4 linked regions of the Homo sapiens genome follow. The protein of the gene in region 3 purifies or fractionates together with the protein of the main gene of each other region. This does not show direct contact. Each region holds a gene or a part of one and is shown on either strand. Other genes may lie near its edges.

Evidence for each region.
Region 1: the proteins of CELA1 (region 3) and GLI3 purify together in Homo sapiens (affinity purification with mass spectrometry; 2 studies listed by BioGRID and IntAct, with this or other methods). This does not show direct contact.
Region 2: the proteins of CELA1 (region 3) and ZNF318 purify together in Homo sapiens (affinity purification with mass spectrometry; 2 studies listed by BioGRID and IntAct, with this or other methods). This does not show direct contact.
Region 4: the proteins of CELA1 (region 3) and KRABD3 purify together in Homo sapiens (affinity purification with mass spectrometry; 2 studies listed by BioGRID and IntAct, with this or other methods). This does not show direct contact.

The regions. Positions count from the first base shown.
Region 1 is NC_000007.14:42,045,194-42,052,325, reverse strand, and holds part of GLI3 (transcriptional activator GLI3), read left to right. Parts: intron 1-3,629; coding exon 3,630-3,835; intron 3,836-6,795; coding exon 6,796-6,942; intron 6,943-7,132. UniProt on the Homo sapiens protein: Has a dual function as a transcriptional activator and a repressor of the sonic hedgehog (Shh) pathway, and plays a role in limb development.
Region 2 is NC_000006.12:43,366,559-43,374,481, forward strand, and holds the start of ZNF318 (zinc finger protein 318), read right to left. Parts: upstream 2,865-7,923; 5' UTR 2,830-2,864; coding exon of another isoform or gene 2,808-2,829; coding exon 2,409-2,807; intron 1-2,408. Other genes in the region: atherin-like, read left to right, coding at 2,806-2,829, 2,865-3,563.
Region 3 is NC_000012.12:51,343,646-51,350,671, reverse strand, and holds the start of CELA1 (chymotrypsin-like elastase family member 1), read left to right. Parts: upstream 1-3,992; 5' UTR 3,993-4,033; coding exon 4,034-4,049; intron 4,050-4,794; coding exon 4,795-4,877; intron 4,878-6,818; coding exon 6,819-6,919; intron 6,920-7,026. UniProt on the Homo sapiens protein: Serine proteases that hydrolyze many proteins in addition to elastin.
Region 4 is NC_000007.14:149,710,610-149,718,051, forward strand, and holds the start of KRABD3 (protein KRBA1), read left to right. Parts: upstream 1-4,341; 5' UTR 4,342-4,445; coding exon 4,446-4,457; exon of another isoform or gene 4,458-4,629; coding exon of another isoform or gene 4,630-4,740; intron 4,741-7,442.

The sequences.
Region 1 (7,132 bases), on a different chromosome or scaffold from region 3:
GATCAGATTTGCTATGGAAAGGGGATTCTTCCACACAAAAAACCTGGACACAGATGTTTATAGCAGCTTTATTCATAATTGCCAAAACTTCGAAATAACCAAGTTTTCCTTCAGTAAGTGAAAGAGTAAATAAGCTATTCCATACAATGGAATATTATTCAGTGCTAAAAGGAAATGAACTTTGAAAAAATATGGAGGAAACTTAAATGCATATTACGAAGTAAAAGAGGCCAATCTGGAAAGTCTACATACTGCCTGACATTCTGGAAAAGGCAAAACTATGGCGAGGGCAAAAAGATGAGTGGTTTCCTGGGGTTGGGGGCTGGGAGAAGGAAGAAGGGAAGAATTGGTGAAAGAGGATTTTTAAGGCAGTGAGACTGCTCTGTATGATACTGTAACGGTAGATACATTTGCCCAAACCCGTAGAAAGGATAACACCAAGAGTGAACCCTAAACTATGGACTTTGGGTGACGATGATGTGTGAGTGTAGGCTCATCACTCGTAACAAATGCACCACTCTGGTAGAAGATGTTGATAATGACAGGAGGCTATTTATATGTAGAGGCTGGGGGTGGGGGTTATATGGGAAATCTCTGTACTACAGCTCAATTTTGCTATGAATTTAAATTGCTCTAAACAAAGTCTGCTAACAAAAAGAATGTCTTAATATTTCAATATTTGAAATCACACAGTATGTTGCATTTGCTACCCCTACTATGCATGTATATATGTTTATATGTGTGCATATATCTGTGTACATATACACATGTGTATATAAATATGTTTGTGTATATGTGTATTATGGGTGGAATATGTTAGCACAGTATGTGATGTATATGTCACATATGATTTTACATATGGATGTATGTGTATATTTGTATATATGTGTGTGTGTGTATGTGTTGAGCATTCAGTATATACTAGGCTCAGTACATGAGACTTTACTCTTGTCAACTTCCTAAGACTCCCACGAGGTTATCTTCCCCATTGGACCTTTAAGGAAGAGGAGAAGGTGAGTATCAAGGCTGAGGTCCACGCACATTGAGTCCCACTGCTTGGATACATCTGTATCTAGAATTCCTGATGACCCCCTTATGACTGCCTGATGCACCTGTATCTTTATCTTCAAATCCTGGAGGAACCCTCCTTTCCACTGTTGCTTCTCAGCAGTATGTAAAAGGACCGTAGAGCCCAGTGCTCCTGCCAGAGAAGATATGACCAGGTCTTGGAGCCTCACTCGTGGGAAGCTGGTTTAGTAGGTACCTTCAGTGTCCTGGTGGGAAAGGCTTGAATCCAAGTGAAGCAGTGACAGGGACATCAGACTTGATAGACTTTTGTGAGGAGAAAACAGCTTCCTAGGCTTTCTTTGGGATTGATGACCACCCTAGCCTGGCCGCTATAATTTTTGTGTTTTTCTAGATGCTGATTGGTTTTCCTGTGCATAATTCTCCAAAATAGAATTTGGACCTCTAGGGATATTCTTACCACTCTTCTCAACTCTGGAATTTTGGAGAAATAATAGGTTTCAATCTTTGGGTAAATCAAGAAAAGCCAGTAAGAAATGTCACTGCCCACCCTGATGTTTAGTTCATGTTGCTCAGACCAAGTTATTCCTGGATTGCAAAAGCTGGCCCAGGAGGCGTCATCTCATGGCTTTCTTGAAACAGCTCTTCTGCATTCGGTGGCACCAGTCCCTCAGTGGAAATCTATAAACAAGTCTGTGTTTAGAATCAGATTGGAAGGATTGCTTGTCCTTTCTTGTGAAGAATAAATGAATGAATTAGAGCATCCCCTGTACCTTCTAAGGTAGCAAACACATCTAAATACGGTGTAAGATTTAACCAATGGCGGACACGTCTAAATGGAGCTTAGGGGCTGAGTTAACAAAGAACAGAAAGCCAACTTGTTTTGTAGTAAAGAGCTAAAATAGGAAAGACTAATAGGTTATGTTGATTTCTATTTAAACAAGCCATTTTACTAATTTCTGATTGGGTGTGAAAGCCTCAAGCTGTTTTGAAAAGAAATAGCTATTTGCTGGTGGTGATTTCTTACTCTTCCCATGTGTAAATTTAGAAAACTTTGGATTTTTATTTTGCTTTCCCAAAGTAGCATCTAAGTAACAAATAAAAAGCCTCATTTTTTTTTTAGTTCAAAATGAAAAAAGAGTCAGAAGGAGAAAGTGAGAAAATCCACCCCCACCACCATATTTCAACTTCTTTCATTTTCTACTGAGAGAAAATTCATTATCTGATCTCTGATTTCATTTATTTCAGTGTCTGCGCTGTGCACTTAGTGGAGCTGGCTTTTACCAAGATTATATTCTGACAGGGTGATGGGGGCCGGGCTGTGCGTGAGCATTTGCTTTGCAAGGAGAAAATGTGTTTCCCCCTCCCTTTCATTTCACTCCTAAAGCCAGTGGTGGAAGAGGAATTTGCTGTTCTCAGTTGATCTCTCTCTATCAGGGCCTCCCCTTCCTATGGCCGCACCCTCTGTGAATGAGGAAAAGCGGGGAGCACAACTGTTTAACCTGTCAGAGCCAGTTCCCTGATTATCCATGCCAAATGTTTTCCGTTAGAGAAGGAACTTGGTGGTCCAGGAGGTTATGCAGACTGGCCATTCTAGAAGTGGCTGTCTCAGGGTGTGGCTGTGGCTATGGGGCAGCAGGTGTGAGGGGATTTTGAGGAATCTCTCTCCAGAAGCAGATCAGGATATCGTGGTAGCAAGGTGTGTTTTAGAATTTATTTTTATTAACCAAAAGCCTACATTCTACCTTAGCTCATTATAACCGACGCAAGGGCTTGATTGAAAATGCATTCTTCCCCAACTTTCTAACCCGGGAGCACTTAGTTGCTACTGCTCACTGAACGTGGCTCATCGGGATGCCTCATGGAAAAGGGCTTGAGCAGAAAGCTGATTCCAGGTGCTGCTGCACAAAGGGGAGGAGTTGCCTTCCAAGCACTCACACCTGGATCCATAAAAGTCATTTTACTTACCACTGCGAGGCCCTGGGAAGTTAAACAGACATGTGCCTGGATCTTTAGAGTGACCGATTTCCCATTTCTAAGCAGACTTTTGCAATGGGTCTTCTTCCTTACGGACAGCTCTGCCATGTGCATGATCAGGCTTCCAGACCAGACAAATTTGGGATTGTATTCTTTCATTCTGTTCTGTTCTGTTCTTTTCTTTCCCTTTCTTTTTTCTTTTCTTTTCTTTCTTATTTTTATGCAACACCATGCTAGTAAGAGGTAAGTTTTAAATGGTAACATTAATATTTGGGTCAAGTGGAAAATACAATTGTAGCAACCACTTTAAGCCCAGTTGCCTGTTATTTAGAATTTCTTCTCATGGAAGAAGCCATAGGTTGACCTTTATTTTACTATTTTGGAGTGCAATGAAGTTTCTCAGAGATCAATTTATTTTCCCAAACAATTGCATAGCGATGCTCTGCCTGCATTATATCATGCTGATTTTAAAATAATAGTACTAATATGTATTTGCCTGCAGTTTTTTCCACAAGGCTCCTTTGAATTCACTTAAAATCTTACTTATTTTCTTTCAGAGACAGCCTCTGCCTGTGGAGATATTTGTCTCATGCATACCCCTTGTATCTGGTTTTCTTTGTACCCAGGACTTCCGCCTTATCTAGTAGCCCTACGTATCCGGACCTGCCCTTCATTAGGATCTCCCCACACCGGAACCCCACTGCTGCTTCCGAGTCTCCCTTCAGCCCTCCACATCCCTACATTAATCCCTACATGGACTATATCCGCTCCTTGCACAGCAGCCCATCGCTCTCCATGATCTCAGCAACCCGTGGGCTGAGCCCTACAGATGGTAAGTCCAGGATGGATTCTGCTTCTGGAGATCATGCAGCCTCCTCCCCGCTCCTCACTCGGGACGTGTATAAAGTAGACCTGATGTTTAGTGAGTGTTTCCCATGTGCCAGGCGCTGTGCTCTGTGCCTTACATGCATGATTGCGTTTCAGTTTTGTAACACCTCATTGGCAGTGGTGTTATTATCTCCATTTTCATGTCAGAATAGCAGCGTGCAGTGGGGTTTACTTGCAACGCAGTCAATCCCATGGCTAGTAAGGGGCAGAGGTGGAATTCATTGAAAATGTTTCTGATTCCCAAATCCCTGCTGGTAACTAGGGTTCTGTTCTGCTGCTTCACATATGATTAGACTGGTCCTGTAGCCATTCACACACGTGCATGTGTAACATGAGTGTTTTACTCACCTTCTGATGAACACTTTTCTGTTCTGTGTGTCTGAGCACATTTATACAGATGCGTCTGTTAGAGGAGGGCTTCCCAAACTCTAGTGTGTCTATGAATCACCTGGGGAGCCTGATAAAACGTGATTCTGCATCAGGTGGGATCAGGTGGGGCCTGAGATTCTGTGCTCCTCAAAAGCCGATGATGTCAGTGCTGTTGGTGCCTGGACCACACTCTGAGTGGCAAGGTCTTAGAAAACATCATGGTCCAGGGCTGTTGCCTGTGCTTTCTATTCTTGACCATGCCACATGAAAATCCGAAGAAGTATGTACTGGGAAAGGAAATGAGCTTAGACTTTCTTATACTTGTTGCTCATTTTAGGCTCTTAAGGATCGAATTCCTGTTGGTTCTGTTAGTCCCCCCATTACTTTCCACATGACTCTTCTTAATTGGAGCTGTGTATTCTCCTGGTGTCAACTTATAAACTGGTCCTTTGATTCAGGAAAAGTATTTTCCATATCACGCACACATAGGAATTCACTTGCCCAATAATCACTGGAATCTGAATCAAGGTCCAGAATTGCATCACCTATTAATTACAGGTAGCAGGCTCTGAATTCTTTGCAAGAGATCGCAAATCACCACTGCCTGTTCCACATCAGAGAAACACCAGGCATTTCATTTCACTGAGCAGTGCTTGATGCGACTTCCATGCCCTATCCACATTCTCTAGGTAGACGCCTTCCTGAGGCTGGGTGTGCATGGTGAGAAGCTGCATGAAGTGTCTCAGGAAACATCCACTCACTTGGGTTTTCAGAAATAGCTTTCCTTCAGTAACAGCCACTTTTTTCTTTTTTGATTCAGTGCATTGAATTTACTGGTTAATAATAGTAATACAGGTAGCTAAAGAATAAGTTTTGCCCTTTGGGCAGGATTAACATTTTATTTTATTTTGAGAAAGGGTCTCACTTTGTTCCCCAGGCTGGAGTGCCTTGGTGCAATCTCAGCTCACTGTACCCCAGACCTGCTGGGTTCAAGTCATCTTCCTGTCTCAGCCCCCTAAGTAGCTGGGACCACTGGTGTGCACCACCACGCCTAGCTAATTTTTATATTTTTTGTAGAGACAGCGTTTCGCCATGTTGCCCATGCTGGTCTCAAACTCCTGAGCTCAAGCGATCTACCCACCTCTACCTCCCAAAGTGCTGGGATTACAGGCATGAGCCACTGTGCCTGGCCAAGATTCACATTTTAAAAATAAAAATCAAATATGAATTAGATTTTCTGCTTCAGATTTTATTTTGCACTTGAAGAACTGGAGAATCATCTCCTTCAAGTCCTTGGGAGTTGGTGGAAATGACTAACAAGGAGAATAGACTGAGGGAGAGAGGGAGGCTAGCTGACAATGGACTTGGAATTATGCCTGGCCTGCAGAAATTTATTCGGGCTAGTGGAAAGTCATACCACGAGTTAAACTACTGAAAGCACTCTTATCATCTGCTTTGTGTAGCATTTGATGACGAGTATATATATCACATTCTTTGACTGGTTCATTTGCCTTCCTTTTCTTGCCTCTCAAGAATCCAGTTAATATAATCAAATAAAGTAACATGATAAATATTTCCCTTGTGGCCTAAAGTTTTTTTCCTTAAATCTCTATCTTTACCATGTATCATGGATAAAAAGTATATGAAACAAATATAAAATACCCACAAACCTATCACTAGAGTGCTGGTATTTCTAGATAATAATCGTAAAACTTTTATTGATTGAATGCTATGTGCTAAGTGTGCTACATACATAATTTAATTTTTGCTCCTGACGACCTCATGGAGCCAGTTTAAATCCAGATCTCTATGAGTCTGGAGGCCACCCTCAGAACTGCTACAATGTCTTGCTGCTTTTGCACGAAAATTGGCAGGTGGAAACCGACTATTATCCTGTTAGAAAGCTGAGTCTTGGCAGTAAATTGCTCCAGATTGATAGGTATATTTTCTTTTTGATTTTGTAATGAAGAAAAGGAAAAGAGAGCTTTTAAATTATGGAATGTAAAATTGTAGCTTATCATTCAGTTGTGTTATTAAAGCTGTGCTGCCTTTTTTCATACTGGTAAACCCTGACTTTTCATGTGAGTGAGAGTTAACTCAGACACTCTTGTCAGAAAGCTTAGAAAAGTATTTTAAGTATGTCTGGAAAGATATCATAGTCTTCTAAGTTGTCTACTATTGTAAGAAATGCAAACATACAGTGATTTGATATAAAAATGATTTTATTTGGGGGGCAAATGTGGTTATGTACATATATACATTTTAATCATTCTGATTTGTTGATAATTTCTTAGACCAACAACAAAAACTTAGTAATGCATTTCACTTTTTTCTATTCCTTTCCTTCAGTTTTATTTTCAAATAAAAGATGTTTCATGGAAGTAAGAGCACAATTTGAGTTAAAGGAGCTTTACTCTAATAAGCCATAAAAGGAATTGCTGATGTGGGTTGTGTAATGGACTCTGAGATGCCTCAAGAGAAACTTCTAGTTGACCTTCTTTCGCTAGTAACCATACATCTCTTGTCTCCTCCTAGCGCCCCATGCAGGAGTCAGCCCAGCAGAATACTATCATCAGATGGCCCTGCTAACTGGCCAGCGCAGCCCCTATGCAGACATTATTCCCTCAGCTGCCACCGCCGGCACGGGGGCCATCCACATGGAATATCTTCATGCTATGGATAGTAAGTGACGGGGCTGGTTTCTAGAGTCTTGGGAAATGGCAAAGGCAACTTTATGAAACAGAGAAGAAGATACAAAGATTAGGTGATTGTGTAACTTTTTGATCTGGAGGAGAAAGTGGAACCACCACTATCTGGTGCTCTGGTTCCCTTCGTTTTCTAGAAGCTTCCACAGATTTGGACATCCTGAGAC
Region 2 (7,923 bases), on a different chromosome or scaffold from region 3:
GGCTGAGGCAGGAGAATCACTTGAGGCCAGGAGTTTGAGACCAGCCTGGGCAACATAGTGAAATCCCTCCCCACACCAAAACATTTTTTTAAAATAAAATCAGCTGGGATGTTGGTACGCACCTGTAGTCCCAGCTACTCAGGATGCTGAGGTGAGAGGATCGCTTGAGCGTGGGAGTTTGAGACTGCAGTGAGCTATGATCACACCACTACACTCAAGCCCGGGTGACAGAGCAACACTATATTACATACACACACACGCACACAAACTGTAACTCCCTTCTCTGCTCTTAGTCCTTTTTTTTTTGTTTTGTTTGAGACTTGCTCTGTCGTCCCCAGCCTGGAGTGCAGTGGCACGATCTCGGCTCACTGCAAGCTCCGCCTCCCAGGTTCATGCCATTCTCCTGCCTCAGCCTCCCAAGTAGCTGGGACTACAGGTGCCCGCCACCAAGCCCGACTAATTATTGTATTTTTAGTAGAGACGGTGTTTCACCGTGTTAGCCAACATGGTCTCGATCTCCTGACCTCGTGATCCGCCTGCCTCGGCCTCCCAAAGTGCTGGGATTACAGGCGTGAGCCACCGCGCCCGGCCCTATTTTAGTACTTCTTAGTCCTTCTTAGTACTTAATTACATTTAACATACCATCGCATTTCTAACTTCAACTTATTATCCAACTCTCCCTGCTAGAATATTAACTCTATAAGGATAGGAGTTTTTTTCTGGTTTGTACTTTGTTGTATCCCCAGGGTAGTCCAGAACAGTCCTAATGCAAAGTAGATGCTCAATAAATACATGTCAAATGTATAAAATGAGGGCTTAAAAATCAATTTGATTTCTGTGTAACCTCCAGAACAAACTGGAGGGTAGCAAGGGCGGAGTGTAAAGGAGCCAAATGCAACAATCCATGCAAGAGGTAATAGGGCTTAGACCAGAGTGATGGCAGGAGGATGGCAGTTTTGGGGATGTATTCTAGAGGTAAAGCTAACGGGTTAGACAGATGAGGTAATCTGACAAATTAGATGTGGGAAGAAGGGAGATAATGGCTGTTTCTGATGTAAGCAACGGATGATGCTATTTACTCAGACAGAAAAGACTGGAGCAAATACATTGCGCACTGGAGAAGAAAAGGAGGTTGTGTAAACAAGCATTCTGTTCTTCCTTCCTCTGTAGTGACTGCCACCCACACTGGCACTGCTCAACTGGAAATCTTAACATAGTGACAAATCAATTTAACCATGACCAAAGTACTCACAGTACTTACATACATGTTAGAGAGCCACTCAAAAAAGCAGAACTTTGTTACTAAGTTTAAAAAAAGAGGCCGGGCATGATGGCAGGCGCCTATAATCCCAGCTACTTGGGAGGCTGAGGCGGGAGGATTGATTGAACCCCGGAGGCGGAGGTTACAGTGAGCTGAGATCATGCCATTGCACTCCAGCCTGGGGAACAGAGTGAGACTCTTTCTCAAATAATAATAATAATAAAAAGATTGATGAACTAAAAATAAAACAAATTCCCAAAAACCAGACTCTACCTAGAGGATCTCTTGGGGTGGTGGTTATGGTTAAAGGTCAACATTATTTCTAAAACTAAACTTAAACTCATGCTCCGTTCCTCTAGCAGTGAAACATAGAGGTTCAAATCATGGATTTGGGGAACCAGGCGGATCTGAGTTGAAGCACAGCTCCACCACTTAGCCGTGTCACCTCAGTCGAGTTACTTGAACCTCTCTGGGTTGGTTCCTCGGCTGTACAACAAGGAATAGTATTAACTGCCTCACTTCAAAGACTTGTGAGGGTTAAAATAATGTGCAAAGTGAAAGGCTAGGCATAATTCCTGACATAGAACTCGATAAGAGGTAGTGGCTATGGCAGTGACTGTGGTCCTGCACACTTCATTCCGAAGCAGCAGCTCCAATTCATTTAAGCTAACAGTTTACACTCTAGACGTAAAGCCTGGTAGGGTTCAAGCGTCCCTAACTCGCCACAAAAACGGACATTTCGGCTTTTTCCCCTAAGATCCAGGAAGGCAGCTCAGGTGTAAGGGGATGAAAAGTACGGAACCCCGAGGACACATCAACTCTACAAAAAGTACCAAGACACACGGTTTGGACGAAATGCCCCTCGCCTTGGCAAACTTTCCACACCTCACCCGGCATGAGAGAAACAGCCTATTCCTAAGGAACGGAGCGCGCACTCCCGACGAGACGCCCGTGCGCTCCCGAGTCCGTTATTGTGTCAACGCTCCCGGGTCTGACAGAAGCCTCCAGGCTCGGCATCCCCGAGGGAGTTGGCCGGAGGCTTCGCGCTTAGGACCCTGGTCTGGAGGCCCCGGGCGTTTCTGGAAACGGGAATTCCGGGGGAGGGGACTGGGGGATGGAGGGAGTCCTGGACGAGGGGTGGGATTACCCGGCTGCCGCTGTCGCCTGGATGGTCTCCGCGGCCGTCCCGGGCATAGTCGGCGCGGGACTCCCCCCGGCTGCTGCCTCTGAAGCCGGCCGGGCCCGGCGGGAAGAGTCGTCGGCCCCGCGGTGGCGACGGGGAGCCGCGACGGGCCCGAGGCGGGGACGGGGAGACGCGACGACCCCGTGGCGGGGACGGCGAGGCCCGGCGGCCGCGGTGCCCTGAGGGCGAGCGGGGTCGGCGAGCCGGGGTCCGCGACGAGGAGCCGGAGGGCGGAGGCGGCGGTGAGCTGCGGCGAGCCGGGCCTGAGGAGGAGCCAGAGCTGCGGCCGCTGCGCGGGCCGCCCCCGCCGTCGTCTTTAGGCCGGTGGGAAGAGACGGAGGAGCGAGCGCTGCTGCGGTACATGGTTCTTGCAGCGGCGGCCACGGCGACAGCTCTGACCCGGGGGCGCCCTAGACGCAGGCTCGGAGCGCGCCGCCGCAGCTGCAGCCGCCGCCACCTCGGCCGCTGCGCGCCGCCTCAGCCGCGGGAGCAGCCCCCTCCCCTCGGCCCCGCGTCGCCCCGGGGGCCCGGCCGAGCGCGCCCCCGCGGCTGGCGGTTGGAGGGCGCGAGCACGCGTCCGACACACCCCCCCCCGCCTCCGGGGTTCCCCGCTCCTCCACTCAGGGAGCGGCCGCAGGAACCAAGAAAAGTGGGGAGGAGCACAGACGCCGGCGCGAGGCTGGGCGAGGGGAGGGGAAGCGAAGCGCGCGCCCTGAGCTCTGCACGCCCCGCCTCCGAATCCTCAAGATGGCGGCCGCAGAGCCGCCCACTTCCCCCTCCCGCGGCCGCCACGTGACCCCTGTGGCCTCCGCGCGGGGTGGGCGGAGCGGAAGGAAGGGCTTCTCTGGAGAGGGATCTGGTTTTCCGGGGATGCTCCAGGCCTCTGGACTTAGGGGTTTGGAGACCGTGCGGAGGTGTCTTCGCTCTTTCGTGCCGCCCCTCAAGCCTCTTAATTTAGGGATGGACACGAAATGGTTGAAAACCATTCGTGATAATATAAACGGGCCTGTAAACGTTAGCTGTGTGGGAGGTTACGGACCCCGGCAGGAGCGCCCACCGAAATCCTGTCCCCAGCTGAAGCAACACGACCCGCATCAGTTTACTTTCCAGTTTGCCTAATTTCTAGAGGTTGAAATTGAGGATAGGAAAGTACGAGGTGGAGGTGGTGGGCCAGAATCAAACCCAAAATAGACGTTGTCAGGCCTCTGAGCCCAAGCTAAGCCATCATATCCCCTATGACCTGCACGTATACATCCAGATGGCCTGAGGCAACTGAAGAGCCACAAAAGAAGTGAAAATAGCCTTAACTGATGACATTCCACCATTGTGATTTGTTCCTGCCCCACCCTAACTGACAGGATATATTCTCCCCCTTGCCCTTAAGTAGGTGCTTTGTAATATTCTCCCCCGCCCTTAAGAATGTACTTTGTACACCTATCCCAAACCTATAAGAACTAATGATAATTCCACCACCCTCTGCTGACTCCTTTTTCGGACTCAACCCGCCTGCACCCAGGTAAGATAAACAGCCTTGTTGCTCACACGAAGCCTGTTTGGTGGACTCTCTTCACACGTTTTCGAGCTGTTTTCTGACTAAAGTACTTGTGGTCATGGTGGAGGTCCTTCATTACCAGGGGCCCACATCATGACCAACTGGAGGCGTGGCAAGTTTTTGTAAGAGATCCAGGCATGCCCCCTCCCCTGGCCTAAGTCCAGAATTTTCCTAGATGCCAATCTCAGGGCCCTGCATCCTAAATACAAAAGTGGGCCAGGCGCAAAGGGTCACGCCTATAATCCCACCATTTTGGGAGGCCGGGGCAGGAGGATTGCTTGAGCCTGAGAGTTCGAGACCAGCCTGGGCAACGTAGAAGGACCTCCATTTCTAAAAAAAAAAAAAAAAAATTTGCCGAGTGTGGTGGCACGTTCCTGTACCCCAGCTACTCGGGAGGTTGAGGCTGCGGTGAGCTGTGATCATGCCACTGCACTCCAGCCTGGGTGACAGAGTGAGACCCTCTCTCAAAAAATACATCCATATATATATATATCCATTTCCATACGTTCTTATAATGGCATATACTCAGTAAAAATGTATAAAATTTTTACTAGTTGACTACTTTTACCCAGCTTCACATTTTATATAATTTATATAAAATAAGAAACCAATAACATTTTAATGAAAAAAATAATAAAAATATGCCAGAGGTGTATGCCCTGTCTTTATTAGAGTATATATGGATTTTGGTTACCCATACTTTTGGTGGGACTTAATAAATGTGAAAAAAATGTAAATCAGTGTGTATAGATACTTGGAGTCAATAAATTTTAAATCATGTTTGTTATATTCTGTATCAACTTTTACTCCTCAACCCATTTCTAATACTGAATATTTTTATCAAAGGAGCTGGGGTGTTTCAAGACAGGGGGAGACACGGTGTATAATCAGAAAACTCTTCTGCTTCCCCTTCACACTTGCTCTATGCATAGTTCTGTATCCTGCATGAAATCTCTTGCAGATCCTTTCACTTTTCAAGTATTTTTCAGTCATGACAGTAGTCATATTGCAGTAGAAAATATATAGTACAGAACAAAACTTTAAACTTTATTCAGGCTAAAGGTTCTCCCCTACCCCTGCTTTTACCTGCTTCAGACTTGAAGCTTGCTATATTAAAAGTGGTATGGTAGGTTTCTCCACATCCCTGCCTTTGCTCCTCAAAGTTTGCTCCTCCTCTCCCACTGGCTAGCTGCTATTTCTGACCCCCTCCTCCCAGGAGGAGAAGGGATTGAAGGGAAAGAACACAGACTTTCCTGGTTAGTGCAGGATGCTGTTACCTTCCAAAATCGGTTCCCTATGGACAAGGAGGAATCACAAATGTTGGCTTTTCTCTCTTATGCACCTTTGTGGGCTTTTTTAGAACTCTCTTGCTGGCAGTGGTCCTCCTCTGGTTCACTGTCTATGACTCCCCTCCCCCAAGTCTTTGGCCTTCTGGAGGAGGTTTACCCCATGTAAAACTCACTCCCGTGGCAGGAGTCCCTTTCCTCTCTGGTTATCTCTCATGGGACGGATCCCTTTTATTTTGTTTTGTTTTTTTTTTTTTTTTTTTTTTTTTTTTTGAGACAGAGTCTCGCTCAGTCGCCCAGGCTGGAGTGCAGTGGCTCGATCTCCGCTCACTGCAAGCTTCGCTTCCTGGGCTCACGCCATTCTCCTGCCTCAGCCTCCCGAGTAGCTGGGACTATAGGCACCCGCCACCATGCCCAGCTAATTTTTTTGTATTTTTTTTAGTGGAGACGAGGTTTCACCGTGTAAGCCAGGATGGTCGCGATCTGCTGACCTCGTGATCCGCCCGCCTCGGCCTCCCAAAGTGCTGGGAAGGTGGCATGAGCCACCGCACGCGGCCTGGGAAGGATCTCTTTTAAATGACTCCAAGTTCGTTAGCTTGTGTGTCCACTTGGCTCACAGGATAACTCATGCATCTTTGCCCCAGTGGCGAAGGCAGTGCAGCTCACTCCCCATGGCTCCCACCTTATTCACCATCCCAGCACAGTTAGCCAGCATCTTGCTTTTGGACTTCCCCCAGGTAGGGGTTAAGACACTATCCCTGTGGATCTCCAAACTCCAGGAGACACAAGCCAAACATTCTAAGAGGTTCTAGTAGAAGGCTTTATCTCACTTGGCTCCCCTCTCCCGCCCCAGAGTGGCAGGAGAGGAAATACAGAGCCCACAGGTAACTGTCCGACACAATCTTCATTCTCTTATATAGACTGAGGGTGGATGATTAGTAATGCTGGCAGACTAGTTCATATTCTATCATCACCCTTTAAGATGGGGGAATGGGAGTACCTGGCATCTGTTGTATTGCCTTCTATTTTTGAGGCCTTTGCTGAAACTCCAGAGACAATAGGAAGAACCCAGTTAACGTACCGTCCCTGTTGTCTGTCATCAATTCAAGAAATTTTTATGAGACTTCTGATGAAGATGGTGAAATGTGTAAAGGCTTTCACACATACACACATACCACCCCATAGTAGACATACCGCAATGACATATAAAACCTTAAAAGAGAAAAGTAAGGAGACTAGGATGTATGCTATGGACTGAATTGTGTTTCCCCCACCACTACTCCAAATTCATTTGTTAAAGCCCTAACCCCCAATGTGATGCTATTTGGAGAAGAGTCCTTTGGGAGGTAATTAGGGTCAGATGAGGTCATGAGGGTAGGGCCCCCATGATGATAGTGTCTTTATAAAGAGAGGAAGAGACACCCATGCCCTCTCTCTGCTATGCAAGCACACAGTGAGAAGGCAGTGTCTACAAACCAGGAAGAGAGCACTCACCAGGAACTAAATTGGCTAGCACCTTGGTCTTGGACATTCCAGCCTCTAGAACTGTAAGAAATAAGCACGTGTTGTTGAAGCCACCCAGCCTTACGGTATTTTGTTACAGCAGCTCAAAACAGCTAATACACTCTGAAACGAGATAACCACCTCCCCATGGACCTCATGGGCTTTGAAATGAGTCTAGAATCAAGGGTAGCAGTTAGAGATTTGGCTCCTGTGAGATAATGGAAATGTAAGTGCTCCTCAGGAGGTGGAGGACCTGGGACAGATTTTTAGCTTAAAGCCAAGGACATGCCTGTCCCTACATGCGAGCTGAACAAATTACTGCCAGCCTTCTGCTTGGGGCTAAGTTTCATGGGAATGTGCCATGTGGGTGGGAAGATAAAAATATTGACAGCCTTTAAACAAGAACTGAGCCTAGACACTCCCTGCTCAGTGACTGGAATGGTAATATCCTAATATTACCAATATTACCTATACACCAGTAATAACTAATTAGAAAATACGATTCTGAGGCCAGCTGTGGTGGCTCATGCCTGTTAATGCCAGCACTCTGGGAGGCTGAGGCAGGCAGATCACCTGAGGTCGGGAGTTCGAGACCAGCCTGGTCAACATGGCGAAACCCCATCTCTACTAAAAATAAAAAAATTAGCCAGGCATGGTGGCGGGTGCCTGTAATCCCAGCTACTCAGGAGGCTAAGGCAGGAGAATAGCTTGAACCCGGGAGGCAGAGTTTTCAGTGAGCCGAGATCACACCACTACACTCCAGCCTGGGTGACAAAGGAGACTCTATCTCAAAAAAAAAAGGAAAGAAAGAAAATATGAGTCTGGCCAGGCGCAGTGGTTCACACCTGTAATCCCAACACTGTGGGAGGCCGAGGCAGGCGGATCACTTGAGGTCAGGAGTTCAAGACTAGCCTGGCCAACATAGTGAAACTCTGTCTCTACTAAAAATACAAAAATTAGCTGGGCATGGTAGTCTGGCTACCTTAGCACGCTTGTAGTCCCAGCTACTCAGGAGGCTGAGGCAGGAGAATCGCTTGAATCTGGGAGGCGGAGGTTGCAGTGAGTCGAGATCTTGCCACTGCATTCCAGCCTGGGTGACACAGTGAGACTCCACCTCAAAAAAAGAAAAGAAAATATG
Region 3 (7,026 bases):
CGAGGCGGGCAGATCACTTGAGGTCAGGAGTTCAAGACCAGCCTGGCCAACATGGCGAAACCCAGTCTGTACTAAAAATACAAAAGTTAGCCAGACGTGGTGGCAGGCGTCTGTAATCCCAGCTACTCGGGAGGCTGAGGCACAAGAATCGCTTGAGCCTGGGAGGCAGAGGTTGCAGTGAGCTGAGATTGTGTTTCAGCCTGGGTGACCGAGTGAGACTCTGTCTCAAAAAAACAAACAAACAAACAAGAAACTAGCTTCTTCATGGCATTTTCCTTAGTCAAGCCTGGCCTGGCCCTAACAACACCCGTATTCTTCCTTAAAACCCACCCCTCTGACCACTCTCAGCTAACCTAAGGCCCCTACCTCTTAAAACCCTGCTGCTAGCCCTGTGCTACTATCTCCCGGCTCTAGGAGTCTCTCACTCTAGCATTAAAGAGCTAGGCCTCTCTGGGGATCTGTTTCCCACATGAAGAGTACTGGGGCCATTGCCACAAATAGCTAGATGTCCCAGAATTTATTCTTATTTTTAATTACCAAAGTAATACTGTGCCAGCCTGGCCAACATATCGAAACCCCGTCTTTACTAAAAATACAAAAATTAGCTGGGCGTGGTGGTGGGCACCTGTAATCCCAGCTACTCGCAAGGTTGAGGCAGGAGAATCGCTTGAACCTGGGAGGTGGAGGTTGCAGTGAGCCAAGATTGTGCCACTGCACTTCAGCCTGGGCAACACAGAGAGACTCCATTTTGTTTTGTTTTGTTTTTTTTAAAGTAATATTGTGGAGAAAAGTCAAGTGATCTAGAAAAGTGAGGTTTAAAAAAGTGAAATTTGCTACTTGGGAGGCTCAGGTGGGAGGATTGCTGGAGCCCAGAAAGTCAAGGCTGCAGTAATTTGTGATCGTGCCACTGCACACCAGCCTGGGTGACAGAGAGAGACTCTGTTTCAAAAAAATAATAAAGCTATATAGTATTCCATAGCAGGGTTAAACCCAATTTATTCAGTCTTCCTCTACTGATGAATACTTAGCTTTTTTCCAATTTTGCAACAAGCTTTGTGACAAACTATACTGTAACCCACAACCTCGAACATTTATTTTTCTGCCTGTTTTTTTGTTTTGTTTTGTTTTGAGACTGGGTCTTGTTTTGTCACCCAGGCTGGAGTGCAGTGACACAATCATGGCTCACTGCAGCCTCGACCTCCCATGCTCAAGGGATCCTCCCACCTCAGCCTCCCAAGTAATGGGACTACAGGCATGCGCCACCATGTTTTTTTCATGTTTTGTAGAGACAAGGTCTCATTATGTTGCCCAGGCTGATACCAAACTTCTGGCCTCAAGCAGTCCTCCCGCCTTGGCTTCCCAAATTGCTGAGATTACAAACATGAGCCACCATGCCCGACCAGTGTTTATCTCAAAAGAATTCATTCCTAGAATTGGTATGCAATGTCAGAAGAAATGCAATGCCTCAAAATTTAAGTCATTGTCTGGCTGGGCGGGTGGCTCATGCCTGCAATCCCAGTACTTGGGGAGGCTGAGGTGGGTGAATCACTTGAGCTCAGGAGTTTGAGACTAGCTTGGGCAACATGGTGAAACCTCGTCTCTACAAAAAATACAAAAATTAGCTGGGCATGGTGGCTGGCACCTGTAGTCCCAGCTACTTGAGGGGCTGAGGTGGGAGGATCGCTTGAGCCCAGAAGATGGAGGTTGCAGTGAGTTGAGATCATGCCACTGCACTCTAGCATGGGCAACAGAATGAGACCCTGTCTTAAAAAAAGAAAAAATTTAAGCCATTGTCTATGCCTAACCCTAAGAGTAAGATTTTTTTTTTTTTTTTTTTGAGATGGAGTCTTGCTCTGTTGCCCAGGCTGGAGTGCAGTGGCACAATCTCGGCTCACTGCAACCTCCACCTCCAGGGTTCAAGCAACTCTCCCTGCCACAGCTTCCCAAGGAGCTGGGATTACAGCTCCCAAGCACAGGGACTACACCACAACGCCTGGCTAATTTTTGTATTTTCAGTAGAGACGGGATTTCACCATGTTGGCCAGGCTGGTCTGGAACTCCTGACCTCAGGTGATCTGGCCCTGCTGTGATGTAAAGAGGTAACCTTCAGGAGGCCCTCAAGCCTCCTCTTGGACTCCTCATCCTGGGGCTAGAGGCCAGAGGAAGCAGGGAAGCGGGAGGAGAATGACCAAAGAGGCCCCGGGTTCCCTAGCGCAGCTCACCCCTCTTCCCTGAGTGTGCCAGAATGCTGGAGGGCAGGCTGGAGAGCAAGCTCTTCAGGTTATCTGAGCATCAAAGTGCAACTCCTCTGAACAGCTCTAGACACTGAAAAAGTGACTGTGCAGATTCCTTCAAAGAGCATTTTCCAGGTTTCTCCCACCCCTGCAGCCATGAAGCTTGGATTCTGGAGTGTTTAGGCAACAAAAGCCCTGGGTGGGCAGGTGATGGTCCTGCTTCTGTCTAGGTTCCTGGCTTCTCCCTGCCTAATTCCAAACCCCATGCGTTGCTACCATGACTGCTGCACCCACAGTCCTCTGCTCTGGAGCCTGCAGTGGCTCTGATCATTTTGTGGCCAACCCAAGGGTCCTCTGCCCACCTCAAGGCACATTGCAACTCTTTTCTCTCTCTATTTATTTATTTATTTATTTATTTATTTATTTATTTATTTATTTATTTTGAGACAGAGTCTTGCTCTGTCTCCAGGCTGGAGTGCAGCAACCTCCGCTTCCCAGGTTGAAGCGATTCTCCTGCCTCAGCCTCCAGATTAGCTGGGACTGCAGAAGCGCACCACCATGCCCAGCTAATTTTTGTATTTTGTTTTTGTTTTTTTTTAGATGGAGTCTCGCTCTGTCGCCCAGGTTGGAGTGCAGTGGCGCGATCTCGGCTCACTGCAAGCTCCGCCTCCCGGGCTCACGCCATTCTCCTGCCTGCGCCTCCCGAGGAGCTGGGACTACAGGCGCCTGCCACCACGCCCAGCTAATTTTTTGTATTTTTTTAGTAGAGACGGGGTTTCACTGTGTTAGCCAGAGTAGTCTCAATCTCCTGACCTCGTGATCCGCCCGCCTCCGACTCCCAAAGTGCTGGGATTACAGGCATGAGCCACCGCGCCCGGCCAATTTTTGTATTTTTAGTAGACGGGGTTTCGCCATGTTGGCCAGGATGGTCTCGATCTCTTGATCTTGTGATCCGCCCGCCTCAGCCTCCCAAAGTGCTGGGATTACAGGCGTAAACCACCGCGCCCGGCCGCAACTCCCTTCTCTCTCCTCTACGAACTGTGATGAACAAAGCCTTTCATCTCCTGCAGGAACCTCGGCTCCTACCCTCGTTCTCCCTCTGCCCTCCACCCTCCATCTACCCTCATAGCCCTCAGACTGTCTTCACATCCCAAGGATCCCCTCCTCTACCCTGCCTCATATTCTCCTCTGGGAGCCCCTTCTTGGCTCTCCATCTGAGAGGGCCCAAGCCTGTTTCTCAGTACTTTCCTCCCCCAGAATTATCTCCACTGCATCTATTTGGCTTTTGTGTCTGCATTTACACCTATGCCTGCATCCTGGGGGCATGTGCCATCTCCCTCTTTGGGCAGAGAGAGTTGCTGTGTCTTCCTTGCCCTTGCTAACCACTCCCCCCTCTTCCACTATCCCCCTGGCCTCCAGCTGCTAGTGCACAGGGCAAGTCTCTGCATTTATGGTGCCACTGAGGACAACGAGAGAGTGATGGATGACAAGGGGTGCTCCCTTAGAGAAAAACCAGCCCTGGTTCTCCATCTTATTTCTGAAAAAGAGTTTGTTGGATGCTTTTCAATTAAAAGCAGATGATTAATTCAGCCCTGGCCTTGTTCTGTCTTTGAATAACAGATACATTAGTTTACTTGAAAAGAAATATTTTCATTTGTATTTCCATGTCACTTGTGATTTTCCCTGCCTTGCACCCTCAGCCCTGCCAGTTGGCAAGAAGACAGTCAGCTTTGCTGCTAAGAGGAGTATAAAGAGGGCTTGGTCCAAGCAAGAAGGCAGTGGTCTACTCCATCGGCAACATGCTGGTCCTTTATGGTAAGTGGATATGGTCCAGTCGCAACCCTGGTCCTTTATGGTAAGTGGATCATGTGGCCTGAGGTCTATAGGGAGGGGGACTTGGGCAGGAAGGTCAGCAAATTTTCCCTAAGTCCAGGCCAGCACCCTGTCCCAGGGCAGGTGGGACGCTCTGCCTGCAGAGCGTCCTTTACTCTCCTGGAGGCCAAGATAGAAAAGGTCAGGGCCACTGGCTATTCAGGCCCCTCTGGGTGGCAGGTCCCTGGGCCACAAAGCAGAGAGAAGCCCCATCTGGTAGTGGGGTGGGTCCCTGGGCTTCCCCACCACCCCCATTGACAGGAGGACTTCCTCAGCAGGTGCCTGGCTGGGGTGTGCACTGCAGGCCCTGAACCCTGGAGAATCTTGCCAAAGCATTAGGGGGCTGGTGGGGGTCAAAGAGTGGGGGGGGGTCTCTTCAGGCCAAAGGGTGATCTTGAGCAAAGAGGAGACCACAAGGAGCCTCTGGGGCCTAGCCTGGTGGTTTGAGAGAGGTCCTTCATAGCATGCCGGAGTTCTGGGAACACCTGGGGGAAACAGAAGGCACCCAGGCACCCCTGTTTTCAAAAGGGGCTCAGAGAACTCACAGCTGGGCCCCTCATTCGTTAGAGAGGAACTGTGAATTTGCAGACAAGGCTAACATTCCTCAAAGCACAATCGCCACCCCCCACCCCTACCCCTGGCTGACCCCATGCTTAGTCATCACTCACTTTTCTTCTGCCCCACAAAGGACACAGCACCCAGGACCTTCCGGAAACCAATGCCCGCGTAGTCGGAGGGACTGAGGCCGGGAGGAATTCCTGGCCCTCTCAGGTGGGTGTTCCTTCCCAGCCCCAGACTTCCACCCAAATAAGAGCTCAGTGCATGACATAAGGTATCATGTGTATTTGTGCATGTCCCTATCAACAAGCAGCTCTCCAATTGTCTAGGTTCTCGATTTTAAAGATGGATGGGATCAGGCTTAGGTGGTTTTCTAAATGCAAAAGGCTTGGAGGAGGGGATTTATACACCAACCACAGTCCCTCTTCAAGGCACACACCCAAACACAAGATACATTTATATTCTCAGCGACAGCACTTGTGCCACGCAAGAAAGACTGGGTGCCAGACAGTCACCTTGGACTCCACATACCTTGAAACTCACACGCACACCACTCCACACTGTGTGTGTCACAATGCTTGCACGCATGTGCGCGCACACACACACACACACACGTACAGCATGCTGCTTAGTTGGCTATTTAGAGTTTCCACTTTGCTAACAGGGCAGCTGGGCCCTGATTTAAGTGATCTAAATATGTAAACCTGGCAAATTAACTGATGAAGATCCACACTTTGAGAAGATATCACTGCAATCAGAGTTTTAGCTTATAAAAGTCTGAGCCCCAGTTTTCAGGAGTAGAGCTATTACATAACATGAGGTGCTAGAAGAAGAGACATGAACTGATAAAAACAAACATCCTATTGGTATTTTTTTTTTTTTGAGATGGAGTTTTGCTCTCATTGCCCAGGCTAGAGTGCAATGGCATGATCTCGGCTCACTGCAAACTCTGCCTCCTGGGTTCAAGCAGTTCTCCTGCGTCAGCCTCCTGAGTAGCTGGGATTACAGGCGCCTGTCACCATGCCCAGCTAATTTTTGTATTTTTAGTAGAGACGGGGTTTCACCATGTTGGCCAGGCTGGTCTCAAACTCCTGACCTCAGGTGATCCACCCGCCTCAGCCTCCCAAAGTGCTGGGATTACAGGCATGAGCCACAGCGCCTGGCCTCCCATTGGTATTTCTAAGTAGTCCCTGAAGTGGGGAGACAGGAGATGTCTTGAAAACACTAAAGGTACAGCTCTGGAGACCTAAGCCTGTTGGGCTTAGGTGATGGAGCAAATCTTTGCCTATAGTTCCTCTTTTTTGGGGGAGGAGAGGGGGCGATGGAGTCTCGCTCTGTCACCAGGCTGCAGTGCAGTGACGCTATCTCAGCTCACTGTAACCTCCACCTCCTGGGTTCAAGCAATTCTCCTGCCTCAGCCTCCTGAGTAGCTGGGACTACAGGTGCATGCCACCACGCCCGACTAATTTTTGCATTTTTAGTAGAGATGGGGTTTCACCATGTTGGCCAGGATGGTCTTGATCTCCTGACCTGGTGATCCACCCGCCTTGGCCTCCCAATGTGCTAGGATCACAGGCGTGAGCCATGGTGCCTGGCCTATAGTTCCTCTTTAAGGGAGAACAGAGGTAGAAGGAGTTCCAAAAAAGGAGTTACAATGGGTTCTAGGTCCATTGCAACAACCTAGAGAGATAATGCCAAATACACTGTGTGCCTTTACTCCTCCATCCATGTACACAGCAAACATCACCAAGCGATGGAGCATCCCTTCCTGCTGGCCCCAGAAGCATCTACACACCCCTTATCAATGCCACACTCCAGGTGGCCACTACCAAGCAATCAGTAGCAATTGGCAGGTCAGATGAAACCTATTTGCCATCTCTAGCCTAGAAAGAGAATGTTTTGAAGGACAGCAGGACTTTAAGGAGGTGACATGTAGTTTGAGGCAAAGTCTTTTATATTTAATTATTTTTGACGTTGTAGAGGCGAGGTCTCACTATGTTGCCCAGGCTGGTCTCCAGCTCCTAGGCTCAACTGATCCTCCTGCCTCAGCCTTCCAAAGTTCTGGGATTACTGGCATGAGCCACTGCAACCGACCTGGGGCAAAACCATTTGAGAAACACCAACCTATCCCTTCTTTCTTTCCTCCCCATCTAGATTTCCCTCCAGTACCGGTCTGGAGGTTCCCGGTATCACACCTGTGGAGGGACCCTTATCAGACAGAACTGGGTGATGACAGCTGCTCACTGCGTGGATTAGTAAGAAAAACAAAGACAAGCTTTCCTGGGCCCCTGGAAGGGGAAGGGGCTGACCTTCTGAAAGAGGATATAATTTTGCCCTCTCTGGACAGCACTTCAGGGACTGG
Region 4 (7,442 bases), on a different chromosome or scaffold from region 3:
AACTTCATGATACCACAGATAAAGAGATTTTTTTTTTTTTTTAGATGGAGTTTTGCTCTTGTTGCCCAGGCTAGAGTGCAATGGTACGATCTCTGCTCACTGCAACCTCTGCCTCCTGGATTCAAGTGATTCTCCTGCCTTAGCCTCCGAGTAGCTGGTATTACAAGCATGCACCACCATGCCTGGCTAATTTTTTTTGTATTTTTAGTAGAGTCGGGGTTTCTCCAGGTTGGTCAGGCTGGTCTCAAACTCCTGACCTCAGGTGATCCTCCCGCTTCAGCCTCCCAAAATGCTGGGATTACAGGTGTGAGCCACCATGCCCGGCCAAACAGATGATTTTAAATGAAGCCAGAGAAGTTAAATCATATGCAAAGGAATAATTAGACTGACAGCAGACTTTTCAATAGCAACAATGAAAGTCAGGAGACAATGGAATAAAATATTAGAAGTGTGAAACAGTTCTCTCCCTGGCTAAAGTATCATTCAGGAGTGAGAAAAATGTAAGACATTTTATATAACTGAAAGTATCCACTTCTAAAATATCCTTGCTGAAATAAATTTTAAAAGTTCTGCTTCAGGAAGAACATTGAACCCAGAAGGAAGAAGAAAGAGGCAAGAAAAAAGAGTGAACAAAGATAGTGGTAAGCACATTGGTAAATCTAAACAGCATAGATTGTATAAAACAAAAACAATGACTTCAAATATCAGGAGAGAGTCTTAAAAACAAGATGTAACTAAAAAGAACAATAATTACACACAAGACAGAAGGGGAAGAGTGTGATTAAACTCATATTCAAAAAGCTTTCTATCATTTGCGAGAAGATCAGAAGTAGTAATATTAGATTCTATTAAACCAAATATGTGTGTAAAATTACAGAGTAACCCCCAAATGAATAAAAAAGGAAAGCATAACTTTCAAATCAGTAGATTCATGATTATGATAGAGATTGTCAGACTGGATTCAGCAGCAACAACAAAATCTAGCTACATGCTCTTATATGACACACATCTGAAACATAAATATACACAAAGTTTGAAAGTAAAAGGACAGGAAAAGATATATCAAAGAAATACTTGCCAAAATAAAGTTAGTGTAGCTGCAGCAATATCAAACAAAATGGATTATAGACAAAGACTATTATTAGGGATAGTGTTACTTTCTAATAATAGAATGAACAATTCTCCAGGAAAATACTACAATTCTAAATTTGTAAGCACACAGCCTCCAAACACATGAAGCGAAAATTCTCACAAATTCAGGGAGAAATTGACAAATGCACAAACTTGATATGAGATTTTAACACCTCTTTAGTAACTGATAGTTCCAAATGCAAAAAGATGATAAACTATAGAAGGCATAAACCACATGATTGATAAGCTTGATTTTACAGCTCTAACTAGATCCTACACCAATATTAGAATATATGTACTCTTTTAGGCAAACATGGAACATTTTCAAACATCTATTGCACACTTGGCCACAAAGCAGTCTCAGAAAATTCTAAAAAATCAACATCACTTACTACATTCTCTGACTATAAGGCAAAACTCAAAAACAAAATAACTCATAAAAAGATTCGTATTTGGAAATTAAAAAGTACTTTTAAATAATCTCATGGATGGAAAAAGAAATAATAATGAAAATCAGAAAATATTTTAAAGTTGCAGCCATTTTCACATGGAGGACTGGCCAGCACAATTTGCCTTTAGATTCATTTGGGAAAAGTGCCGACTAGTTCACCAAAAGTCAATTCACAGAATGACCAGATAGCCAAAAGCCAAATATGGTAAAAGCTAAACCACTGAATATCAACTTGCTAAACAACCAATCTGAATTATTGAAATTTTTTTTTTTTTTTTTTGAGACAGGGTCTTGCTCTGTCACCCAGGCTGGAGTGCTGTGGTGTGATCTTGGCTCACTGCAACCCCCCTCTGCCTCCTGGGCTCAAGAGATTCTCCCACCTCAGCCTTCCAAGCAGCTGGGACTACAGGGGTACACCACTGCACCTGGCTAATTTTTGCATTTTTTGTAGAGATGGGGTTTCATCATGTTGCCTAGGCTGGTTTGGAACTCCCAGGCCCAAGCAATTCACCAGCCTTGGCCTCCCAAAGTGCTGGGATTACAGGTGTGAGCCACCGTGCCTGGCCCCAGCCAAGGAATTTTTAAAGATGTGTTTCAGCTCCACTCCTGCCTTTGTCTGTGTCCAGAGCCATCCAATAAACCTGGTTCAGGACAGGTCTTCACAACTATTTTTTAACGCACACACACGGGCTGAGGTAAATACAGGTCTACAGGGTCAAAGGCGCAACTAAAATTTGGGGGATAGGGGTGCCAGGAAGTGTCTCCATAATTTAAATAATTGGCCATGCAGCAAATTTCATGTTGGTGAACTGCTTTTAGCGACTGATGGTCCACAAATGGGGCAGGAAGCCTAGCCAGGAAGTGGACGTTTGAGTCAAAGAGGTGCCAAGAATCTGCACAGCTTAAAACAAAGGTGCATCTTACTTGGATAGAGATTTCTTTCTACAGGTGTTTAAGTTTAAGGCAGGGGTCCCCAGTCCCTGGGCTATGGACCAGTACCAGTCCTGGCCTGTTAGGAGCTGGGCAGTGCAGCAGGAGGTGAGCTGCGGGCAAGCCAGGGAAAGCTTTATCTGTAGTTACAGCCACTCCCCCTTGCTCGCATTACCCCTGAGCTCTGCCTCCTGTCAGATCTGCAGGTGCTGGATTCTCATAGGAGCCAGAACCCTGTTGTGAATGCGGGATCCAGGTTGCGGGCTCCTTAGGAGAATCTAATGCCTGGTGATCTGAGTTGGAACAGTTTCATCCCAAAACAACCCCCCTCCCAGTCCATGCAAAAATTCCCTTCCACAAAACCGGGCTCTGGCCCAAAAGGTTGGGGACCCCTGATTTAGGGGGTTTTAACGTTTAGGGATCCCGGGCCGGAGGGTGGGCGGTGGAGAGGAGCTGGGAGCAGGAACACATTACTGTAAGGAGCCCGCCTCACCTCGGCACGGAGGTGGGACCCGGCCTAAAGCCCAGGAGGCGACTTACCCTGAGGGCTGTGGCCTGTAGGGCTCTTGAAAAGTTGGACTTTTAAGTTTTCCCTTTCCGCGAGGTGGGGCCTTGTGATATCTTCAAATCCTTGTTCAGCAGGCTGCGCACACGCCGGTCCTGTGTCTAAGGTGTCTCGGGTATGACCGAGGGGGCTTTGCCCGAGTGGGCGTGCGCCTTTCCTCGGAGGCCGGGACGAGGGGTTGTCGGCATCGTACCCGAGTCCGTGATCATGGCCGGCGCGGCTGCAAGGGCCAGCCCCGGGCGACTGGGCGAGGAATTCCCTTTCCTTCCCTCCGATATTGCCCAGGCAGAGCGCTGTCTGGGCCGCAAGGTCTGGACGGGGCTTCCAAACTCAGAGCAGAGTCTCCTCTGCGTGGGACCACAGCCTCCCCTTCCCCTCCAAGCTTCTGTCTGGCACAGCAGGCTTAGCCCCGCAGGCCCCCTTCCAGCAGCCTTCTATAAAAATGACGGGGTCCTTCTCCAGACAGGAAAACCAGGCTCGCTGCGCCTCGCCCGCACCCCCGGAGCGCTCTCGCAGCGCCCGCCCAGACCAGGCCTTCGAACTCGTGAAGCGCAGGGGGAGGCAGAGGAGAGTGGGCCGCGCTTCCTTCCCGCATCACACGTTTATTTGAGGCCTACTATGTGCCAGGAACAACTGGGGTTACCACCCCAGCAAACAGGCACGCAAAATGTGACACGAAGGTAGGTCATGGCTGCGGCGAGCGGGGGCGCGGGCGAAAGACGTGAGGATGTACGGGGGCCTGGCAGCTGCTCTGTCCCACCCACGCCCGGCCGGACCCTCGACCCCTTTCACTCCAGGTCGGGTTTCCCCGACCGCGGCCTCTGGGAAAGATGGGTCCCTCTTCATCCCCACCATCAGCCCCTGGCACATGGGACGCGCTGAGTGGTGGCTGCGGGAATGAATGAGTGATAAGCGGCGCGTACCCGCGGGCTTGCACGCCCACAGCCGCCCCGGCTGGTCTCGGCGCGCAACCTCTACCCGCAGCTGGGGGCGGGGACGAGGGGAGGGGGCGGGGACGAGGCCCGAGCCAGGTCCGCCCCGCCCTGTCTCCGCCCCCCGCTTCCGAGCCGGCGCCGCGGCGCCTTCTGGGAAGTGTAGTCCGCGTCTGCGCCGGCCGGCCGGGCCGCCGAAGCCGGGGGCTCCGGGCGGAAACGGCACCACCCACCAAGGGATGCGAGGCGCTCGGGGCGGGCTCAACGAGGCCGGGGGCGGGCCCGGGCGCGCCCACCCCCGCCCCTCCCCCTCGGCCCAGGCCCCCGGCCCCGCCTTCTCCTGCGCGGACCTGGGCCGCCGCCGACGAGGGTCGCGTGCGCCCGCGCCAGGGCCCGCGCCGGAAACCGAGGAGTGGCGGGGAGGCTGAGCCCGGGGATGGCGCGCCAGGTAAGGCAGGCGGACGCGCGGACCCCTCGGCGCAGTGCGGCCCCGAAGGCGGTAGGGCGAGAAAGAGCTGGGACCCCCCCGCAACTTCGGGATCGGCTGGGTGAGGCTGGGCAGGCCTGATGCTCAGGGGTTCGTGCCGGGAAGTTCAGGTCCTCGGACAACCTCTCTCCAGCTCTCCGCCGCCGGTACCCACGGCCCAGTCTCCACCTGGGGAAACCCCCTTGGCGTGGCTTGTTTCGTTACAAGTTATCCTGGTAGAGTGGGCATGAAGGCCTCGGAGGCAGTGAGTAAATCTCATACTTCTGTTCTTGGTGGAATCCTGGATCCCGGGGGCTGGGGACGTGGAAATGGGGAGAAACAAAGATAGAACAAACCCCAAGTTTTGTCTTGGGAAGCCTGCAGGTAAGGCGTTTAGATCTGAGAACTGGAGGGAGAGCCCCAGGCCGTGACAGCCTGGGCACCGTTTGGGCTAGGTTGTGTGTGGGCTGTGACGATGCTGGGAAACTCTGGTGCTGATATCAGTGAGGTATCAGGTATCTGGTGCTGATACCAGCAACTGCTCCACGTTCTTCTGGATGGGCACCTGGAGCCAGTTCTGCAACCGTGGTGGCTCCTGAGCTTTGGCCAGTCCGAGGCAGCCATGGATGGGGGGCAGCGTGTGACTAGGCAGAGCAAACACTGTGCCAGGCCCTTGGCGTCATTAGTGCCCCCAAGCATTTGGGGAGAAGGGAGAGGCTAGGCAAATTGGATGTTGTTGGGCAGGGACAGTCAAGTGTCCTTTTCAGGTCTGGCTGCACAGTTAAGTAGCCTAGGGACACCCTGGTTCAGACATGCCCATGGCCCCATCCTAAGGCCTCCTCATACCACAGTTTCCTGTTCTGTAAAGTGAGGAGTTTGGGCCATTGACCTTTCAGATCTGATGAGGGGAATATCCTCACACTACGTAGCTTCATGGAGAAGGTGGCCAGGAGTGACCTTGGGGAGTGGTAGGTCACTGTAAGGTGGAGAGGAGCAGGGAGGGTTCCCAGAAGCCCAGGGCAATGTGAGCACAGCCTCCAGGTTGAGAGGTCCTGTGGCAGGGTCTGATCAGGGAGCCCGAGCCTGAGGCCCACTGGGAGAGCAGGTCTAGGTTGGGAAGGACTGTGAGAGAGGGGCAGGTCCAGCAGGCACTGAAGCTGCAGTTTTTGTGCTGGGCTAGTGACACGGTGGAAGGGTGATGTTAGGAGGACCAGTGTGCAGCTATGAGCTAGGAGGCTGCCCAGTTACAAGAGTCCTGGGTCAGCCCAGAAAGCTTTTCTCCATTGGTTGGGGGAAGGAGGTGAAGTGGGGCCCGAGGAGGAAGGCCGGTGGTGTGTGGGCAGAGCCAGCCAGTGGTGGCCTTCCTCCTCCCGAAGATGAGTTTTGTAGCCCAGGTGTTTGCACACTCACACTTGCTCACTCCCTCACACACAAAACCCTCACTCTTTGCTTTTTCTGGGGAGAGGGAGGCCACTGGCAGAAGCGCCTACCCTGGCCACAGTCAGTTCCCATTCTCATTTTCTAAGAATTTTATCACAAAACAGTTTGTCTTGAGGCTGAGATGGTGAGAGGCCTGGAAAGCATCTCTTACAGATTCCTGGAAGAGCTGGGATATATTTAGTCTGGAGCGAGAGAGACACCGGTGGTCAGGAGCAGTATGTGGAAGAGCTCAGCTGGCAGGCTCAGACCTGCAAGCGGGCATTAGGCAGACAGGTCTGGCTGCAGTATTACTAATCATAGCACTTAATATTCATAGTCCCCGCATTTGTTCTAGGCACTATTCCTGTATTTGTTTTGTCTTCACAATACCTCTATGAGGTAGGTTGTTATGATCCCAGTATTACAGATGAGTTCACTGAGGCCCAAATAGGTTAGGTTTGGCTGAGGTCTCATAACTAGTATGAAACAAGGCAGGGATTGGAATTCTGGCAGCCTGGCTCCTGAGGCTAGGCCCCAGTCACCGTGCTCTGCCCCGGTCTCTGGGTCCGGAACCTCTTAATGGCCACATCAGGTCAGCAGTGGTACCAGTGCAACCAACATAGCTGGTATCATGTTCTTACCTAGAGCTCAGACCTGCCTTGCCAGCTCTGTGTTGAGCCATCAGAATGTCATGTGGGAACCCTCTGCCTGCCATGAACCAAAATTCCAGACTCCCAGAAGGAAAGCAGGGGTGTGGCACACACCACGTCATTTGCTCAGCCTAGGCACCTTGAGCCACTCCCATCATTTAGGGAATGGTGGGAAGCCTCCTGACACCTAAATACCTGGAAGCCAGCCTGAGCCCTCCTGGCAAGCAGGCCTTCCTAAGGACAGCGGTCTAGGGCTGCTCTGCACGCTCTTCTGCATAGACCCTGATGTTGGCTACATTTTCTCTGTTCCAAGATGCTAGGAAGAAATGTAAATAACTCTTTGAGAGAAGTTTTGGAGGGTGTCTGAGACTGTTCCTGAGAGGGAGTGACCATACCTGGGCCAGAGCCACAGAGGTTTGCTCAGGGAGAGTCTGCACATCGAGGCAGGAGGCAAAGGCTGCAGCATCTCACTGCCCATCAGCCTCTGGGCCTCCGGGCCTCAGGCAGGCAGTCACGGGAGGGGCTGCCCCTTGCCAGGGGTGTAGATGCAGCCTGGCCAGAGGGGAGCACTGGTAAGTGTGACTGCATGGGACAAGTTATCAGCTGTTCAGGGAGAACAGGCAGAGAGCCCGGCAGTAAGTGGACAACAAGGCTGCCGGTTAGTGGCAGGGACAGTTTTTTGTTTTTCTTGAAACAGGGGCTGGAGTACAATGTTGTGACCTTGGCACACTGCAAATTCTGCCTTCCAGGTTCTCCTGCCTCAGCCTCCCAAGTAGCTGTGATTACAGACACCCACCACCATGCCTGGCTAATTTTTGTATTTTATTAGAGATGGGGTTTCACCATGTTGGCCAGGCTGGTCTTGAACTCCTGACCTCAGGTGATCCACCCACCTGGG